Linked DNA regions of Homo sapiens. The protein of the gene in region 2 purifies or fractionates together with the protein of the main gene of each other region. This does not show direct contact. Each region holds a gene or a part of one and is shown on either strand. Other genes may lie near its edges.

Region 1 (4,254 bases), on a different chromosome or scaffold from region 2:
AAGGGAAACCATCTCACAGGAGAAGAGTGACTTGGACAAGATCTCCACAGGCTTCAAAGCTGGCCTTCTCTTTCCTTTGTGCCACAGTATGATTTAGGACTGATAGGGACCCTCCCACCAATGGCCTCATCTTTTTTTATTTGTTTCTTCTTCTAGCTGAGGCAAGAGTTGGGGAGATAGAGAAAAGAGAAAAACGACTAAGGTTGGCTTAAAGCTGTGGTGTGACCAGGAGTACAATCTACTCCCAGCGTATGAAACAGTTATTTCTTCTTCTTTCTTTTGGGGAGGGGCCAGATCAGGTGACCAGAACTATCTAAAGCCTGCAGGTCTTAGAAAACATGTTTTGGCTGTGCTTCACATTTTACTTTTTGTTTTTTGAGATGAAGTCTTGCTCTGTCACCCAGGCTGGAGTGCAGTGGCGCTCCACCGTTCATAGCAACCTCCACCGTTCACAGCAACCTCTGTCTCCTGGGTTCAAGGGATCTTCCCCCACCTCAGCCCCCAAAATAGCTACAGGCATGTGCCACCATGGCAGGCTAATTGTTCTATTTTTTTCTTAGAGATGGGGTCTCACTATATTGCTCAGGCTGGTCTCAAACTCCTGACCTCAAGCAATCCTTCTGCCTCGGCCTCCCAAAGTGCTGGGATTACAGGAATGAGCTGCCACGCCCAGCCACATTTTACTTTTTAAATGAAAATGAAAAGCCTAACAGGAATATTGACTCAGCAAGTTTTTATTATGCACCTGTGGGTTTGTGACGATGCCAAGGGATCAGAGGAACAAAGAGAGAGGATGTTGCTCAGATGGGGGTCTCAACCTCCAGAGCAAGGTGGACACAAAGCTCCAGCCAGCTGCCCAGCCCCTGGGGTGGGAGGGAAGGATCGAGGGGTAGCTGTTGTCAGATAAGGCCAAAGGTATCAGTGGCCAAAAGGGAGACAAAGATCTCCTGGGTGCAGCCTCCTCCACCACTGTGGTGAAGGGTGTTGGGCTGGAGGGTTGGCCGACCTCTCCTGAGAGCACGTTCCCCCTGCTGCTCCTGCTGCATGGCATCAACCTGGGTTTCAGTTACATTACCCAGGAGGATTTCCAAATCCAGAGGCAATGTGGCCTTCCATTTCCTGAGGTGCCTTGGTTGGCTCTGGATCAGTGGTGGGGACTCAAGAGACAGCCTCCCTGTGGCTTCCAGCCCCTCACATTCCCTTTGTCGCTTTCTCCTTCATGATGTGGTTTTACACAGAAAAACACTCTGGTAAGTAGAACAGTGTTCTTCTCTTGAGTCAGACGTCTGAAGCAGGAAGGTGAATAACCTTCCCAAGACCTTAGAGCTACAGAGAGAATCCTCAGCACAGGTAGGAGCACACAGGTAGGTGGGGTAAACGTGTACAGAGAGCCTGGCTTCTACTTGGAATTTTCCCCTCCCTTGGCCTTAAAAATCGGATTTCTCCCTTTTCCAGCTATGTTGATACAAGAGACAAACTATTTAGAAAGTAAAAGCCTCAACCGTTTATTTTGTGTTCAAAGTATAACCAAATGATTTTATTGCATTTACTGCTCCTGGGCATGCAGATGCATCTACACAGAAACAGCAGTTGTGGTTATAAAATCTTTTAACGAGTTTGGGGCAGAGGCTTTTTAATTATTTTTGAGACAGAGTCTCATTCTGTCACCTAGCTTGTGCAGTGGCATGATCTCGGCTTACTGCAACTTCTGCCTCCCAGACTCAAGCAATCCTCCCACCTCAGCCTCCAGAGTAGCTGGGACCGCAAACGTCAACACCACACCCAGCTAATTTTTTGCATTTTTGGTACAGACGGGGTTTTGCCATGTGGCCCAGGCTGGTGTCACTGAGCTAGGCAATCCACCCACCTTGGTTTCCCAAAGTGCTAGGATTACAGGTGTGAGCCACTGCACCCAGCCCAGAGTTTTCCTGATGTGAAAATTACGTGAGTGACAAGGAGCACCAGGAGCCTTGCCTGACTTACTGTCTGTTGGTAGGATGTGACATATGAATAATACAAAATACCCGTCTGGTTTGACTTGCAGATTAAATCACTGCTAGACTACAGCCTTGATGCCCTCTCTTGCTGACCCTAGCCAACATAACCAGTCTTCCAGGAACAATACCATGTTTTAAATTGCTTGAGGTTTCACTACCTGCTGTCACTCTCAGTCCGGAATCCCAGCAGGAGACACAGCTCCAGCTGGCCTGCCCAGCCCCCATCAGAAGGCAGGGAGGAAGGGGAATTTGTCAGCGTTTACGGCTATTGAGTATGATTCTTCCATGCAGAGGACACCTGCCCTAAATGCTGAAACTTGGGTCTGAACCCTGCCTTTGATGGAATTGTGAGCAAGCTCACTCAAGTTTGTATTGACTCATCTGTAAATTAGGAATGATATAGCATACCTCACGTTTATCTGGAGTCATGGGCTGAATGCTGTCCCTTTCAAATTCCGATGTTGAAGTCCCAACCTCTAGTACCTCAGAATGTGACCTTATTGGTAAACGGTTGCTGCGGATACAGATGAGGTTATACTGGAGTCGGTGGGATGGGCTCTAATCCGATATGACTGGTGTCCTTAAACAAAGGGAGGTTTGGAGACAGACACGCACACAGCAAGAGTGCCATGTGGAGATGAAGGCAGAGACTGGGTGACGCTTCCACACACCAAGGAATGGCAACTGCCAGCAAAGGCATGAAGCCGCTTCTCCCTCACAGCTCTCGGAAGGCACCAACTCTGAGGACACCCTGATCTTGGACGTGCACCTCCCAGAACTGTCAGGGAATACACTCCTGTTGTTCTAAGCCAGCCAGTGTTTGGACACACCAGCACTCCAAGCTAATGTATCTATCAAGTGTGTTGTCAGGCAAGGTTCTGTTCTGGAGCTTGGCTCACCCAGACAGGAGAACCCCTCACTGGGGGCAGAGCTCCACATTCCTAGACAGGACAGATTGGAAGAAGGGACTTAAGTGCCTTTTAAACGATGACAACTCCGCTTCCAACCCACAAGCATTTACCAAGGATCTTTGGGGTATAAAGACATTATGGGGTAGGTGTGCAACACAAATTAAAATGTAAGCTTTGTTTTTGGTGAGCTCCAGATCCCTAGTGATTGGCCCCCAGGAAAATCAACAGGTATGACGACTGTTTCCAAACCTCAAGAAGGAGCTCTGCAGACCCCTGCCACAGAGGCCAGCCCAAAAGGGCTGCCTGATCATCTTGGATCTGCGGGGTGCTCCTGCCTACCTGATGGCCACGAATCTGGGGCTCAGACATGACATGTCTGGCTCAGTGTGCCTGGCCCTGCTCCCCACTGAGCCCATCAGTCCCACCCTGCCTTCTTCTTTCCTCTAGTCCAACATCCGCCAGCAGCTTCTCAGTGGAAGTGCAGGCATCCTGGAGCTTCAGGAGCAGATCCTAGCGTTCAGACAGGGAAGGAGGGGAGGGAGTATACTGAGGTTTGGCTGGTGACCAGGGTGCCGCCCTGACGGGGGATAGCCCAGTTTTACTCCCCGAGCTTGGGGAGCATGGGCCAAGGGTCTCTAAGACGCAGAACACCTGGCATGTCCAACCTGGTGATGGCACATCCCCCCCGTTTTTTGGCACAGCAGAAACAGAACACTCACTTGGCCACTCTTTCATTACCTGGGGGAGGGAGAGTGCTCCCATGGCACCACCCGAACGCTCACTACCTGAGAGCAAGGACAGGAGGGAGGTGTGCTCTCTATCCTGGGGAAGGTATGTCCTGGGTGGGGGCGCTGATCAGTACCAAGGTGAGGGGGCAGCACCAGCCAGGGTGAGGCCGCCCCAGGCGGAGAGGCTCAGTAGGAGTTCAGAGCCTGCTTGGAACGGCGCTTCATGTGCAGGCGCTCGTGGCGGAGGAGGTCATAGTTCTGCGTGAAGCTCTTGACGCAGTACCGGCACTGGAAGGGCCGGGCTTTGTCCTTCAGGTGAAAGTGGCTGCGGTGCCGAGCCAGGTGGTCGTGCCGCTGGAAGGCCTTCCCACACTCACAGCACTGGAAGCTCAGTTTGGCCTTGCCGTTTTCCAGCGGCTCTTTGGGACCCTTGTCCGCGTCCTCGGATGCCGCCTGCTCTCTCTTCTCCACCGGCTGGAGTCTGTCCGGCTGCAGGTGTATCCGCCGGTGGGAGAGCAGGTGGGAGTTCAGGCGGAAGCTCTTCCCGCAGGCACCACACCGGTAAGGCTTCTGGGCCTCGTGGCTCTCTAGGTGCCCATCCAGGTCCTCGCTGTCGCT
Region 2 (7,301 bases):
CGAGGATGAGCTCATGTTAGATGGCATATGATATGGTTTGGCTCTGGGTCCCCACCCAAATATTATCCCAAATTGCAATCCCCATGTGTTGAGGGAGGGACCTGTAATCCCCAAGTGTCCAAGGAGGGAGGTGACTGAATCATGGAGGTGGTTTCCCCTGTGTTGTTCTTGAATAGTGAGTAAGTTCTCAGGAGATTAGATGGTTTTATAAGTGTTTGGAAGTTCCTCCTTCCCTATTCCCTCTCTTGCTGCCACGTGAAGAAGGTCCTTGCTTCCCCTTCGGCTTCCACCATGATTGTAAATTCCTGAGGCCTCTCCAGCCATGTGGAACTGTGAGTCAATTAAATTAAACCTCCTTCCTTTATAAATTACCCAGTCTCGGGTATTTCTTTTTTTTTTTTTTCTTTTTTTCAGACGGAGTCTCTCTCTGTCACCAAGCTGAAGTGCAATGGCATGATCTCGGCTCACTGCAACTTCTGCCTCCCAGGTTCAAGCAATTCTGCTGCCTCAGCCTCCTGAGTAGCTGGGACTACAGGCACACACCACCACGCCCAGCTATTTTTTGTATTTTTAGTAGAGAAAGGGTTTCATCATGTTGGCCAGGATGGTCTCGATCTCTTGACCTCGTGACCCGCCCACTTCAGTCTCCCAAAGTGCTGGGATTACAGGCATGTGCCACTGCGCCCAGCCTTCGAGTATTTCTTTATAGCAGTGTGAAAATGGAATAATACAGCATAATTCTCATTGTTTTGTAAAATACTTAAAATGATTGCAGTTTGAAGTTTTTTTAAAAAAATAAACCATATTTTGGTTGAATAATTCTTCACATAAACCAGAAAAAAAAATATTCTAATTGATGTGGTTTGAGATTATTTGGTGCTTTTGTTTGGCTAAAACTTCTTAATGGGGTTATGTGGAAATAAAATTAAATGAGGATGAGATGTAAGGCAAATTAAATATCTTCATTACACTAGGAGAAATAAAAACCTTGTTAACCTCTAAAGTCACTTTGTACTACCTGATGTATCTGAAAATTACAGAGAAAGCATGCTTCTACACATCACATTGAATAGCAATGAAACAATGTAGAGGAGCAATGAAATCCTAGAAAATTAAAATAAATCAAAAAATTGTGCTGAAATCAAACTAAATGGCAAGATTTAAAGAAAATGTATTTCAAACCACTTCCCAAGTGCTCATCTTCTTACCAGTGATGCATTCTAACACATTAACACTTTCTGACCAAATGAATGAGCATACTCTTTTATTTCTGAATGTGAAAAAAGAACTTTACACTTTACCAACCTAAATTTGAAATTTTTAAATTATTGTCCCAAGAGAATAAGTATAATTTAATCCTTCTAAAATAATTACTAGTGAAATAATGGTTAGACATAATGTGTGTTTTACAAATAATAAAATCATTTAACAAAATATCTCCATGATATACAAGATGTGTCACTCACTGAGACAGAGCATCGCCTAATAGTTAAGAGGACAAGCTCTAGATCCTAATTTTAACATGCTACTTAGTAGCTCTATGATCTCTATATCTCCATTTTCTCATTTATATTTCAATAATAATAGCACCTGCCTCAATAGTTTTGAGAATTAAAGATGATAATTAGAACAGTGGAACACATAGTATGCAGTCAATACATGTTAGACTTGAAAGATATTAGAAAGAATGTACCTTGTTAACTTATCTAAGACTCTTAATGCTGACATGATGGTGGTCCCTAAGTAATGAAAAGAAAGCAAAAAAAATAAAAACACAAAATGATGCCTGAAAAATTACTGTTTCTAGGCCAAAATCAAATTTAGTCAGAAATGTCAGAACCTTGCACCTAAAAAAGGGAAAAATCACTTAGAAGCAGCTTTTCTTTTAATTGAAGGTTCATAACAAACACAGTTAAGTACTTTATATCCTGCCTGCACTTGAATATTATATTATCAACAGTGCTCTTGCAGGAGTGTTGAGAAATATTTTCAAAGTAGGCTCATTCTACAACACACATTATAAGGAATAGTTATGTAAGAAAGTGAAAAACACAGCTTTTAAAGTTCCTGAAACTACTTTGACCTATTTTTATATATAAGAGACACACTGCTGTTTAAAATGTGCAAGTACGTTTACAGGCAAACTGATGGGGGTGGGTAGCTACATTCAATTCAGTATATATTAAGTGTCTGTTTGGGTCTTCTTGTTTGTTTTGCCTGGTACTATTCTAAGCCCTAGCTCAGTAGAAAGCACAAAACATGAAACAAGAACTTGGTATATAAACATTAAAGCACTGCGAATGGTAATTTGGTTTTTGTTTGTCTGTAAACAACATTCCAGAAAAGTTAGCGTTTATAATACAGAAGTTAAACTATAGAAAGATAAATAAACAGAAAAAATAGCATAGTTAAAATTAAAGTTCATATAGTATTTGGAAAGAAAATGTGATAAAGAGTGCAGCAGAGGCCGGGCGCGGTGGCTCACGCCTGTAATCCCAGCACTTTGGGAGGCCAAGGCGGGTGGATCACGAGGTCAGGAGATTGAGACCACCCTGGCTAACACGGTGAAACCCCGTCTCTACTAAAAATACAGAAAAATTAGCCGAGCCTGTAGTCCCAGCTATTCAGGAGGCTGAGGCAGGAGAATGGTGTGAACCCGGGAGGCGGAGCTTGCAGTGAGTTGAGATCGCGCCACTGCACTGCAGCCTGGGTAGCGAGACTCCGTCTCAAAAAAAAAAAAAAAAAAAGAGTGAAGCAGAGATGTGAGCACAGACCTAAGGCTCAGGCCTGTAGGTGGGAGACTGCTCTACATTACAGAGAGGGATCTGTCCATTTATTTCAAATAAAAAATATTCTCCAATGTTTCCACTCAATTGTTTTGGACTTTCCTGATTGTGTCATGAGCCCATTTCATCCTGGCTGACCTCAAATAATCCCCAGAATCAGTAAAATCTAAATGGTTCCCCTGACCTAAAATACAAGAGGGGATTTAAAGGATTATTTTGCATTCCCAAAATATACCACTTTGTTAAATACCAAGCACAAACCTTAAGGAATGCATGGTGGCCTAACCCCATTTAGAGATTATCATCTTCAAATCAAGCATATATCATCTAACAAGAGATTAAAACCTTGGTCTTCCCATTTATGAAATATTATATCATATTAAATTATTTTAAGAGATCAATCATTTTGATACAAACCTGTTTTGGAAAAGATAAAAGGCAAAGCTAAGTCAATCTTCTTTCTCCATAGTAACAACCACATTCAAAAGTGCTTTAGTGCTTAAAAAGCCGTCACCTAAATTCTTGTACTTAAATCCTCCATTCTAAGTCACACACTATAAATCTGAACAATTCCTACACAGTTACTATCACTATAATAATGCATATTTTAAAACAAAATAGCAGCACATTTTCTAAAATATAACCAAATAATTGCAGGACATTTTATCTACATTGTAAGGTCTACTTCTTTTTTACAAAATTCAGTTTTGTGTCTTCTAAAACTTTATTACCTTAGAAGAAAAATAATTTTAAAATACCAACATTTTATTTGACACAACGGGAAAAGTCTTAAATAAGTACATTGTTCAGATATCTAGCTATTTCACCATTAAGCAGGTTTTCAAGCTTAAACATTTTTGACCAAGTCTTTTTTTAAATAATGTATACATTTCACTGCATTTGCACCCAAAAAATGTTGAACATCTTGCAGTGAGGCTTTCTCTAGGTCGCAAAACCAGCATTATCACCAGTTATTGCATTCTCTTATATGGTGATACACTTACCACTCCCCACCCCAAACCCTCCCAACTGCATGTACCCAGTTTTTTGTACTGCAAAGTATCACTGCTTTTACATATACTATTCGAGTCTCCTCTTTGTCTAAAAGTTGGCATGTTTTACTGCTCTGATTAAGCCTGACCTATTACTTCATATGCTTTTCACTTTCTGGATTCAGTTTATAGAGGACCCAGAAACTTGAAAGCCAAGAGAAATAAGCTTTTCTATGATACATGATCTAAGACCTAACTATGACATCTATTTTTGTGGTCAGAAGTTTCTGATTCTTTATCCTAGGTTCTCAGCTATGTGGTATGTGGATGAAGCTTCAAGGCAAGTGGCTTCTCCACAAGTGAAGTGGATATAAATTACTGTATACTTGATAGCTTTAGGCAGGACAGTGTGATCAAATCAAGGTGTAAAATCCTGAGTTGCTCCATGATTTAGATCCCAATTTATTTCCACTTATGTTTTAAACTTCAGGTTTGGTAGGCAGAGGTTTGACATTATCATCTTCCTTTTCTTTCCTCACAAAAAGATAAGTTACAAGTTTCACAACGTTTCAAAGGTTTGCAATCTTTTAATAATGATGACAAAATATCACTATCAATTTTACAGTAGATGTTGTGTCCTATTTGCCATATAACAAGGAAATGAGGGAGGAGGGGAGAGGAGGAGAAAGAGACGGAATGAAGGAGAGAGAAATTTTTATCCTAGGAGAACTCTGACACAGAAAGAATGCCACTGGAAACCGACTATTTGGCACAATGTCAGTGACTGTATAAAAAAGCTCCTTAAAAGGGTATAATGGTGAATCTGTAACATAGTTTTGAGGGCTACATCAGCAGATGCTGGAACTACAAGTTATCAGTTAAAGGTCAATTGCAATCAAAATAAATTAGTTCAAGTCCCTGACATCAATTGATGCAGAGGAGTCACATATATAGAAATTAATAACTGGCTTAAATGGGATATAACAAAGCTTTATTTATCATGACATTTGTCTCTTTTGGCCACATGACTTGTTTTATGTAGAATCTTGCAAGATCTAAAAAACATACACTTTACCATAATGACAAAAAGAGTAAATAAAAGCATTCATCTCTTTCCAGTGCAGTAGATGCATAGGAATAGTTGAGTGTGTATGTCTGTGTAAATCAATATAACAGAACTGCTATTTATGAAACTTATAGTTCATATGAAGAATAAGCTTAGAAATCGTGGTATAAATTTCATTAATAATTGTTTTACTACAAACACCTCATAGCTCTCTGTGTTTTTCCTTGGAAGGTACTTAGAAGACTCCCTCTAAAGTAATAGTTCAACCTAAGTGTGCACTTGAATGTCTGTGTTTCCAAGTTAAAATCCTATGGTAGAAGGATTCTACCTTACAATGCCCTCTTTTTTTCTTCCTCAGGGAAGCAATGAAAACTAACTAATAACATTAGTTTCGTAAAGAGTAGAAAGTTACTTTATGTGGATCTGCAGATTCACATTTATGACTTGACTTCTTTTATTTTTCCTTTTATTTTATTTTTTCCTTTAAAAGATCTTCGTTGATTATCCTGACATCTGCTGGTGAGGGCACAGTTGATTCTAGTCTACTTTTCCCTTCAACAACTTGCTCAAATCAAAGATTTTTAGGGGTATTTTCAGTGACAAGTGGTAATACATTCAGTTTAAGTATTTATAGTACTTAAATTCTTGCTGTATCACATAGGAAACCATGAGAAATATTTTAATAATTACTTCACATTGGCAGTCATTTGACTCTGTCTATAAATACATGTTTGCTTTGATTAAGCAAACAACATTATAATCATTACATGGACTATGATAAAAATAAAAAAATCATTTTAGAAGAATATTTATATAGTCTATAACTATAGAACATCTAAGGAAGATGCTAAGCGTCTTCCTTAAAACACAGAGAAGAACTGAATAATAGGAATGGCTTAGCTTTGGTTTTCTGCTTTTTAAAATAATAATGTTAATTTTCAACCTACTTAGCAAATAAAAAGTAAATGATTAACTATGACAGAAGCCATTAACACTCAACACATATTTGCAAAATTTGCTATTTTTTACTCAGTATCCAAATGTTATGATTTACTTCTGACTTGAACTGAGTTCTGAAGCCTGCACTGTTTCTTTGGAAGAGATACAATGAACCTATTACATCCTAATCTTACTCAAAGCTATTGCACCTGCAAGTGTGTGCAGTAAACAACAAATATCAGAATTACTTTTTTAGGCTTCAAGAAACTCTCAAAGGAGGCAACTTTTAAAAAATTATACACTAAATGATAATATATACAGTTCATCCCATTATGCAAAATCCTTCAAAAATGAAAAGTTTTAGCTAATTAAAACTTTATCTTGAAATTAATAAAATTAACAGCTGGTACTACTAATTTAACTCTAAAAACTGTCAAGCTTTTACTTTTAATGGTATCGAGTGACCATGCTACTTTATTTTAGTCATGTATATCTTATTCCTTCCCTTTACATTGCTATAATTTTATTAGAAGAAAAAAATCACATGTATCTAGAGAGAAAAGCAAACTTTATTAAATATTTATTTAAAATACCCTAGATTTTGAATACATGATTTATATGAACATTGATGTCAATATATTTGAGAAAATTATGACATAGTTTTAATTTAGAAAAGTATTCAGAAATACATTTGCCTACTTTTGAAGATTTTTGCAACTTCAAGATCAAAGAAGGAAAAATAGACCATCTCAATTTTTTCCTGATTTTTAAAAATTATTTTAAGTCTTTTCCCAAAACCATATACATTTAAAACAAATACATTTTAATTCTAAGGAAACATTTCAGGAAAAATCAGAAAAACATTTTCAGAACCAGAGGAAAAAATTGTGTGTTGTATCACCACAGTGGCCAAAATATTGCAATACTGTCAAACTTTCACATGAGAATACTTCATTTTCACTTAATTCTTATTTTAATTTGATATTTCAGAATTATTTTTGTATGTTTTACCTTGACTCTGAAGTTAGCATTTATTTTTAAGGTATAAAATTTAATGGTCAGGTAAATTAGGCAACGAAGACATCAATGTGTAATAATAATATAATAAGATAAAAGAAACTCCTTATTTCTGTATAAATGTAACTATACTAATCATAAAAGGTTAGTGTTGTTATCTGGAGTGAGACTGTTCAGGTATTAATTTATTCTCATGTAAAATTAACTAAAAATCGCCATTGATTAAAAAAAGAAAATGCAAATGCCAATGATTCATAGTATTTAGGACATGTCTAGACATTTTTAGACAGTGCCATTTGCTTAAAGACTTCAGGCACAAACTGCAGGCACAGGGACAGATTGCATAAGATGTCACGTGCTTGCTGCAACTGTATGCATGTTATTGAATTTTTTAGAGCAACCCATACCGTGAATAATTTAATAGTTAATAAAATATTCAATCTGACTGATCCATTGGTTTAATTTTAAAATAAAGACGACTAATAAAAGGAGTTACATATC

What was found.
Region 1: the proteins of EDIL3 (region 2) and ZNF496 purify together in Homo sapiens (co-immunoprecipitation; 3 studies listed by BioGRID and IntAct, with this or other methods). This does not show direct contact.

The regions. Positions count from the first base shown.
Region 1 is NC_000001.11:247,296,697-247,300,950, forward strand, and holds the end of ZNF496 (zinc finger protein 496), read right to left. Parts: coding exon 3,823-4,254; 3' UTR 719-3,822; downstream 1-718. UniProt on the Homo sapiens protein: DNA-binding transcription factor that can both act as an activator and a repressor.
Region 2 is NC_000005.10:84,374,580-84,381,880, forward strand, and holds part of EDIL3 (EGF-like repeat and discoidin I-like domain-containing protein 3 isoform 1 precursor), read right to left. Parts: intron 1-7,301. UniProt on the Homo sapiens protein: Promotes adhesion of endothelial cells through interaction with the alpha-v/beta-3 integrin receptor. Inhibits formation of vascular-like structures. May be involved in regulation of vascular morphogenesis of remodeling in embryonic development.